Linked DNA regions of Homo sapiens: region 2 is reported to be linked to region 1. The links are microRNA targets in miRTarBase. Many come from high-throughput screens and were not tested one by one. Region 1 holds a microRNA gene; the other region holds the end of a gene's coding sequence.

Region 1 (4,612 bases):
CGCCGCCGCCCCCCGGCCCGCCGCCACCCCCCGCGGCCGTGGCGCCCGCGCCCCCGCCCACCGCGGCGCCCTTGCTGGCCCAGCAGCAGCGGGTGCACAGGGAGCGCCAGGACTCCAGCGTCTTGCCGGACCAGACCCACACGCCCGAGGTGATGCCCACCACTAGGCACATGAAGTACTTGAGCATGAAGACGGCGTAGTCGGGCCTGCGTGCCTGGTCGGGCTGCAGGTCCCGCAGGCACGGGCAGTTGTGCGTGGCCTCCCAGCGCGGGCGGTTGTGCTGCTCGTAGAAGAGGCAGGCGACCACCACCGCGGCGGGCACGGTGTAGAGCACGGTGAACAGGCCCAGGCGGATCATCAGCTTCTCCAGCTTGTGCGTCTTGGTGGGGCCGTCCTGTTGCTTGATGACCGAGCGGATGCGGAAGAGGGACACGAAGCCGGCCAGCAGGAACATGGTGCCGATGAAGAGGTAGATGACCAGCGGCGCCAGCACGAAGCCGCGCAGGTTGTCCAGGCTCTGGTTGCCCACGTAGCAGATGCCCGCCACCGGGTCGCCGTCCACCGAGCTGAGCGCCAGCACCGCGATGGACTTGACGCTGGGCACAAGCCACGCGGCCAGGTGGAAGTACTGCGAGTAGCCGGCGATGGCTTCGTTGCCCCACTTCATACCGGCCGCCAGGAACCATGTGAGCGACAAGATCACCCACCAGATGGAGCTGGCCATGCCGAAGAAGTAGACCAGCAAGAAGACCACGGTGCACAGCGCGGGGCCGGTGGTCTCGTAGCGCACGTGCTGCTCCACCGCGCCCAGCTCCTCGTACTCGCCGCGCCCGCCCGGGCCGCCCGCGCCCGCGCCCGCCGCGCCCGCGCCCGCCGCCGCGCCGCCCGCGCCCCCAGCGCCCCCCGCGCCCGGCGCGCCACCGCTGCACGCCACCTTCTCGTGGCCCGCCACCAGGCGCACTAGGTAGCCCACCGACACGAAGAGGTAGCAGGCCGAGAGGAAGATAATGGGCCGCTCCGGGTACTTGAAGCGCTCCATGTCGATAAGGAAGGTGGAGACGGTGGCGAAGGTGGACACGAAGCAGAGCACCGACCACAGGCCGATCCAGAAGACGGTGAAGGCGCGCTCGTCCTGGCTGAAAAAGGGGTTGTGGCAGGGCAGCGCGCAGTTAGCGATCTGGCCTGTCTTGACGCGGTTGTAGAGCGGGTGGCGCTCGCTGGACACGCTCACCATAGGCGCGCGGCACTGGCACCCGGGCTCGCAGGGAGCCGCGCCGCCGCCAGGGGGCCGCGCCTTCCCGCCACCGCCGCCGCCGCGAGCTGGGGGCGCCGCCGCGTCCCCGCCGCCACCGCCCCTGCCGCCGCCGCGGTGCGGGGGCCTGGCCCCCGGCGGGCGGCCGTGGCCGCTGCCCGAAGGCGGCTGCTCGCCGGGCGGCGGCGGCGGCAGGCGGCGCGGCGGGCTGGGCGCGGCGGTGGTTAGGTCGGTGCGGTTGTAGTCCATGCACAGCGTGTCAGGGTTGCCTTGCTCGGGCAGCCGGTCGCAGCGCATGCGGTCGGGCCAGGCGAAGCCGTACTGGCGCATGAGCGGCGCGCAGCCGGCCTTGGCGCGCTCGCACACCGAGCGGCAGGGCGGCAGCGGCTTCTTGTAGTCCTCTAGGCAGATGGGCGTGTACATGCTGCACAGGAAGAACTTGAGATCGGGCGAGCACTGGATCTCCACCAGCGGCCAGAACTGGTGCACCTCCAGGCCCGCCTCGTCTTGCGTGTCGTGGTTGAACTGATTGGGCATGTAGGTGTAGTTGTAGCCGATGCCCTTACACAGCGGCACGGTGATCTCTTGGCATGCCAGCTCCTTGGCCGAGGCGGCCGCAGCGCCGCTAGAGCGCTGCAGCAGCGCCAAGGCGGCCAGCAGCGAGGTCACTTCCAACAGGTAACCCCACTCCATGCTGTGCGCCTCGGCCCGGTGCCCTCGCCCTCCAGGCGGCGCGCAGAGGGGTGCCGGGGGGGGGGCCCACGAGAGAGCCGCAGACGGGTACAGCGGGTGATCTGGGGTCTCCCTTATGCTTCGCCCGGGAGGGGGGTCTGCCGATAATCTAACCCCTTCTAGGGGCGCGTCCGCAGCGGCGCGGCCCGCAGCCTGGGCAGGGCCCTTCCGCACTCCTTTCCGCCGCTCCGGGGGTTTGAAGGCGGCTGCAGGCGCGCGCCACAGTCCGTAGGTCCGCTCTGCTGGCCCCGGGTCGCGCTCAGCCCTCGCGGCGCAGAGCGGCCGGGCCTCGGCTCATCGTCCCGCGCTCGCTCGCCTCCTCTCCGCGCGCCCGACCACTTCTCCCCGCCGCGCCGGGCGGCGGTGACTCCGCCGGACAGAGAGGGCGGAGGCGCCGCAAGTTTCCTCTGGGGCCGCGGTGCGCAGTCAAGATGGCTGGGCCGGGCCGCTTGCCGCGCCGGGTCAGCCCTGGCGGCCACCACTCGGCCCCCGGGGGCTCATGCCCGCCCCCAAGGCCAAGCCGCCGCCGCCGCCGCCGGAGTTGGGGACCCGCCTCGGCCCAGGCCGCCGCCCTCTTTCTCCGGCGTCCGTCCTTCGTCCGTCCGCCGCCGGGACAGACGGACCCCCGCCGCCTGGAAAAGTCAGCGCCGCGCTCCGGCCGCAGTCGGGCGAGGTGCACACAGTCTCCTTCCTGCTGGACACCCAGGAGCAAATCCAGACCGGAAGGCGGAGCGGACACCTGAGTGGCGCGGCCCGCGCCCAGCCGCCGCCTCCTCCTCGGCGGGAGCAGCGCCCTTAGCCCAACTTCCCGGCTCCAGCCCCGCTCGCGCCGCGCTGCCGGCTCATGAATATTTATACAGCGCGGACTCGGTCTCCGCCCCCAGCCCCGCGAGCCAATCGCCGGGCGGTAGGGCGGAGTCCACGCGCTCCCAGGGCTCAGCCTTCCTTAAGGCAGTCCCCGAGTGTCCGCACTGCTGTGCGCGCTCTCTGCGGATGGAGAGTTTTGGTAACCTTGGGATTGACCGCAGAGACAGAGTGTTGGCCATGGCTGTCCCCATGGCGCTGAGTGCGTCGGAGGTCTTGGTCCCCTTACCCCGAGTCTGCCCTTGGGGACAGGGACGGGGTTTGGTGCAGCGCGCGCCTCCCCGGCGCGTTTCAAACCAGCCAAGCCCCTGCTGCCACCCTCCGCAAATGTGGGTGATCTGCAGGCGGCTGGGGTCTCGTGCTCCTCGGGGCGGCAGGAAGGTCTCGCAGCAGGCGAGCGCCGGGGAGGCCTGCCGGGGCTCGGCGCTGCAGAAGACCCGGGAAAGGGTGTCCTCCTTGGGGTTCTCAGAACGATGGTTTCTGAGACTTGGAGATGTGGGGGGTGTGGAGTCATTCTAAACTGGGGCTGGACCCGGGACGGCCCGGGTGAGATGCCCCGGAGCCCAGCCTTGGGCGCGCGAGGGGCGCGGGGGACAAATGCCCGCCAGAGACTCTCCTCCCGCCTCCGCTGCGTGACCTGGGGGAGCCTCAGTTTCCCCACCTAGAGAGTTGGGTGATCATAGCACAGATCTCCAAGGGGGCTTTGATAATTAGGTGAGATAAAATATAGGAAGCCCCGAGCCGCCGTGCTTTCTTAGGAAAAATCATTCAATTTCTTTCTAAAATTCAAAACAAACCTCGAAACTTATAAATAGGACAGGCTGGAAACTCTGGGGCTGGATTCCCTGTCTTCCCTTCGTTCTTTCAGGACGTCTATTCATCCATCCCAAGTTCACAGGCTTTTGCCAGAGCCTCCTTTTCTCTGGTGGGAGGCGGCGCTGCGCTCTGGCGTGGACTCCGCGACACGTATCTGCTCTCTGCACGAGGCCGGAGCCGGACCCGGGCTGCTTTTAGCAGCCGCTTGGGCCACCGCCAGCGAACGCTGCCCCCGCCGGCTCCGCCGCCACCTTAAGACGGGCCGGGAGGGGGGCTGCGGGCGGCCCGGGCCGGCGGCCTGGCAGGTTCATTTACGCTTGTTAGGGCGTCCCAGGGGGCTGTCTTTCTCCTAGAATGGAGTGTTTATTTTTTAATTGATGTGCTGTTTCATTTAGCGCTTGTATGGAACTCATGCTGGGGCAGTAATTACTGTAATCTCGGGAACAAGCATTTCAGTTAGCCAGGAGGGTGGCAGAATATGTTTCTCTCTCTCTTTCTCTCCCTCCCTCCCGCCTCCTCCCCATCTCCGTCCCCCTCTCTCCCTCTTCCTCCCTGCCTCTCTTCTGTCTTCCCTCTCTCTCTCTCCCCACCTCCTTTCCTTCTCTCTCTCCCCCACCACTTTCTCTCCCCCCTCCTCCTCTTCCCCTCCTCCCTCTCCTTCCTTCCCTCCCTTTTCTCTCCGCTCTCTCACTCTCTTCTTGTTTCAAGATTTTTGCTATTTGCCAGGTTTCATACCGGAACAAGTACAGTTGGAGAACAAAAGTTGCAGAGGGCGTGGGGACAGAGCAAAAGAATTAAAAGTACATTTGAGGCCAGTTCCGGTTTTCGGGGCGCTGCTGGTGGTGGTGGTAGCTCGTGGTTGTCCGTTCAGAAACAACTCTTGTCATAAAACAAAAATAACCAGCAGTATTTGTAGATTGCTTGAGCTGATGGCATCTATGTCTTCCT
Region 2 (4,306 bases), not on the chromosome of region 1:
TTAAATCACAGATTTTCCCACAACATACTAATTCAACATACTACTTACGATTACTTAAAATTTGCATTTTTTCTAAGGAGCAATAACCTAATGAGTATGTAATACTAATGTGTCAGTTAATAAGGGCAATTACTTTTGCTCTTATTTTCCTGTTATATGAAATTAACAACATACCTGCTGCAATATAACTCATTTGGTACAATTTAGGTGTTTCGAGAAATTCAACCCACTAAGATCATTAGCGTAATTCATTTTTATGCTACACATTAAAATGGTGCCTTCTTACAGTCACTTTGGAAAACTGTTTGACAGTAAATACTAAAACTGAAAATATACACACCCTACAACCTGGCAATTCCATTCTTAGGTTTATACTCAATGGAAATGTATACACTCACCAAAAGACATGTATAAGAATGTTCTACACAGTACTATTCATAATAGCTCAGAATTGAAAAATTCTCAAAAGACTATTAATGGGAGAATGAATAACTTTTGGATGTAATGAAAAATGGATAAACAAACGGAAGACTATACAGCAATGAGAATGAATGAACTACAAATACATGCAACAATAAGAATGGATCTCACTTTGGCAGGTTGAATAACGGCCTCCAAAGATAGCCAGCGTATGAATCCCTGGAACCTGTGAATGTCACTTATATGGCAAAAGAGATTCTGCAGATGTGATTAAATTAAGGATCTTGAGATAGGGGGATTATCCCTGCTTTATGCAGGTGAGCCCTAAACTTAGAGGCAGGGAAAGATCTGACTACAGAAGAGAAGATGATATAATGACAAAAGCAAGCTTTGATCATAGAGAGGAAGGGGTCACAAGCCCATAAATACAGGCCGTCACTGGAAGCCAAAAAAGGGAAGAAAACATTCTCCCTCACAACCTCAATAAAGAGCCAACCCTGCTGATACTTTGATTTAGGCCTAATGAAACTGATTTTTGGACTTCTGATCTCCAGGACTATAAAAGAATAAATCTGTGTTGTTTTAAGTCACTAAGTTTGTGGTAGTTTGTTACAGTGGCAACAAGAAACTAAAATATTCACAAAAATGATGAATGAAAAAAAGTGTATTATGTATGATTACATTTACATAAAATAAAAAACAGGCAAAACTAATCTATGATTTTAGAAGTCAGGATAGTAACTTTCAGCAAGAAAGAAGACAGTGTTAAGATGGGGAAAGAGGAGGGCTTCTGGGGTACACATAATGCTCTGTGTTTTGATCTGAAGACTAGTATGTGAGTTTGTTTAATTTGTGAAAACCTTTATTTGTGTACTGTTTTGTGTGTGTGTGGTATATGCAGTTTTAAAAACTGATGCCTTTTAAACACTTACTAATCTGATAATCTGCCGAAAAAGAATATATAACATATATTCAAGGGGATGGAAAAATACTTACTGAACAATAATTTTATTTCTCAAGAACGCTGAAGATTTTGTTTCTCTCTTCAAAAGATTTAAAAAATTTTAACTGGCAAAACATAATAGTGACTCTTAAATGCTAAAAAAAAAAAAAAAAAAAAAAAAAAAAGAAAAAACCTAAAAATAAAATATTGCATAAGTAAGCTTTGTTATGCCTCGATCTTAGGACTGTAAATTATAAAAATACAAGTAAAACCACATTTTTTGAAATAACAGTAAACAAAAACAAAAGGCAGGTACTACATACCAAATGACCAAAATGTCTTTTGGGCCTAAGATTCTTGAAAATAGTAAAAATGGTAATAATAGAAATCTCTCTATAGAACATTAAATATAAAAACCATTTATAAAACACATCACAATTTTATTGCTTGAAGAATACAGCATATGAAATCACAAGAATGTCAAAATGAAAAGTCACTAGGCTTCAAACGTATAATACATTATCAGATGCAGTAAAATATTAACCTGAACTCTGCATCAGAAAAAAAAAAAAAGGTGTGGAAAATATCTAAGTTGTTTACTTAAGAAACAGATATACTTAAAATAGAAAGTATAAGGATGTTACAGTACAAATTAGAAAAGCCAACACGTATTAACTTATCGTTCTAGACTAGACTACCTTTGGTACTTAAACTTTTTAAAAAACAATTTCTTCTATCTCATCCAAATGCACTTCATGGGTATGACATCCATGAAGTAACTTCAACTTAAAACATTCAGCAAAATTAACCTTTTCACTTCATGGGGGAAGTATATTTAATAAATGTATAACAATATTTCCCTTTTACTAAAACTGCAAAATATGATCATTAAGAAACCTAACAGTTATAAAACTTTACTTACTTAGCTCTCCAATTAAAATTGGAATCCTGGGAGCCACAATCTATTTTTGGGCTTGGTGAATACATAAGTTTAAAAGATTTGGCAACTGACATAGGAATTTAATTACTTAATACTATCTTAAGTGACTTTTCCTTTCTGTTTCCAAAATATAGACATTATGCCATTTCTTCAACATCCTGGATTCCTATAAACACTACCATACTGTATTTATTAGAACCAAATTAAAGCTTCTCTAACAAGCAGGTAGAAACTATTTATGTTCCATATACGGCTGATAAGTTATAACACAACTTATGTTTCATATAGGGCTGATCAGTTAATTCATATAGGGCTGATCAGTTGTAACATAACTTCTTAAGCAAAACTAATCTTTTTTTTAAAGCTATCACTCAATTATGGAGACAATAATGTCATCTCAAAAGGTAATGTTGGACTCTAGGCCATCTAGTTGGGAAAATGTAAAAGTAATTCTAAAAACAATAAGTAAACTATAACTACAAGTTAAATTAAAAATCCCTCTCTCATAGCAAGCATGCTCATTAACTTTCATTTCTTTCCCCCAGCAAAGGTTTGAATATTCATAAACCTCAGTTAAACCAAGAGAACCAATGTAATTGTTTCAAAAGTACCACCTATATATTTGAATAATATGAGTATGGATGGACTAGGTAAGTAATACTATCAACAATTACTGAATTGGAGTGAAAGAGTAAAAATCATGACAGACTTCCAAACTGGGCAGTCTTTGAAATGTCATAGTGGAGCTCAAAATGAATTATGCTGTAATAAAACTATAGTTTTTACCTCTACACAAAACAGAAACAAAATAAAAAAACATAACCACCAAATTTATACAAATACTATTAAACATACTCCTTCCTAGTTTTTGAATGTCTTGAAGTTTTTCTAAACAAGTATATTGATCTGAGCATATATATTTATTGCCTATATATGTACTCATTTTAAAAGACAAATTCAGATACTACAGAACTGAACTCTTTCACCAACCCAATCCAATGTCTACTGATTCACACAGCACCCCCCCCTTAATAATTTAAAATTCACAAGTTTTAGTTTAGTTAAAAGGGCAGAGGAAATGCAAATGCAGATTTAGAGCTTTGTAGAAATTTCACTGTATTTTTATAAACTTGAAGTTATCTGTAACACTGTTTATTGATCAAACGAAGGACTCGCTGCTATCTAAAATTTCATAAACACCATTAAAAATTCAAAATTGATATTATACTGAACCTTAAATTTTCAATAGTTCAAAGAGACAGTTTTTACATGTATAGCACACAATAGATGAAACTTAATAGCAGACATCCCTAGAATACCAATGACAAGTCCACCAAGATGCATACAAAATTACAGATAAGCATTTCTTTCACTGTTTTTGTTGTGCAGGGAAAAACATTTATAGAAGAAATAGAAACTCAGCTGGTGAATTTCAGATATCATCATCATCTTCTTCATCCTGAGAAGATCCCGCCTGATTAGATGCACTGGCTGAGGCAGCAGCAAGCTGGGCTTGTTGGGCAGCTTGCTGCATTTGAAGCCATTCCTGTTGGGCCAATTCTGCTTGTTGCTGTCTAGCCTAAACACCCAAAACATAAAAAAAAATAACAATTTTTTACAAACCCACAATATATACACTTTGGTTAAATGTAGATTAGGCCAATTTCAGACAGTTTATTATCATACTTGGATACTGTCCAAGTACTATGTAATTGTCACACATCTGGAGAACATAAACTCTATAGGTAAATATAATTAGAGATTGCTTTTTTCTAACTACACAGGTCTAAGAAATTTCTCAAACTTGGATCTCTTATAAATGGCCCTGTTTTATTTCACGTAATTTATGACCTTTGATTCAACTGAAGAAGTTGAAAAAGTGGAACCAATATTGTGAAAAACCCACAATATTCCCTCTGGCTCTTTCCCTCTTCTTTTCCTTTCATTTCACTTGACTCTTCTGTACCCTCATATTACAACTTTGATACAAACATTTTTCAATC

The links. The annotated mature microRNA hsa-miR-4683 reads UGGAGAUCCAGUGCUCGCCCGAU and lies in region 1 at 1,697-1,719, opposite strand. An mRNA with a match to its seed (bases 2 to 7 or 8) in the 3' UTR can be bound and repressed. Matches are read on the target gene's strand: a 7mer-m8 pairs with bases 2 to 8, a 7mer-A1 pairs with bases 2 to 7 and ends in A, and an 8mer does both.
Region 2: miRTarBase lists DR1 as a target of hsa-miR-4683. The part of its 3' UTR that is shown has no 7-base or 8-base seed match.

The regions. Positions count from the first base shown.
Region 1 is chr10:35,639,485-35,644,096 of GRCh38, forward strand. MIR4683 (microRNA 4683) reads right to left here and starts at 1,768; the gene lies at 1,688-1,768. FZD8 (frizzled class receptor 8) reads right to left here and starts at 2,812. Exons shown (of 1, transcript NM_031866.3): 1 at 1-2,812. The coding sequence starts at 1,945. It overlaps LOC124902528 (zinc finger protein 469-like), which reads right to left and starts at 3,362. Exons shown (of 2, transcript XM_047426128.1): 1 at 3,146-3,362; 2 at 2,244-2,929. The coding sequence starts at 3,362. The coding sequence ends at 2,244. LOC105376494 (a long non-coding RNA gene) reads left to right here and starts at 3,831. Exons shown (of 2, transcript XR_930820.3): 1 at 3,831-4,612. RefSeq lists enhancers at 1-181, 1,001-1,160 and silencers at 437-731, 1,271-1,360.
Region 2 is chr1:93,360,069-93,364,374 of GRCh38, reverse strand. It overlaps DR1 (down-regulator of transcription 1), which reads right to left. Exons shown (of 3, transcript NM_001938.3): 3 at 1-3,882. The coding sequence ends at 3,736. Among named protein-coding and RNA genes, the nearest start is that of DR1, 16 kb to the right of the region's middle.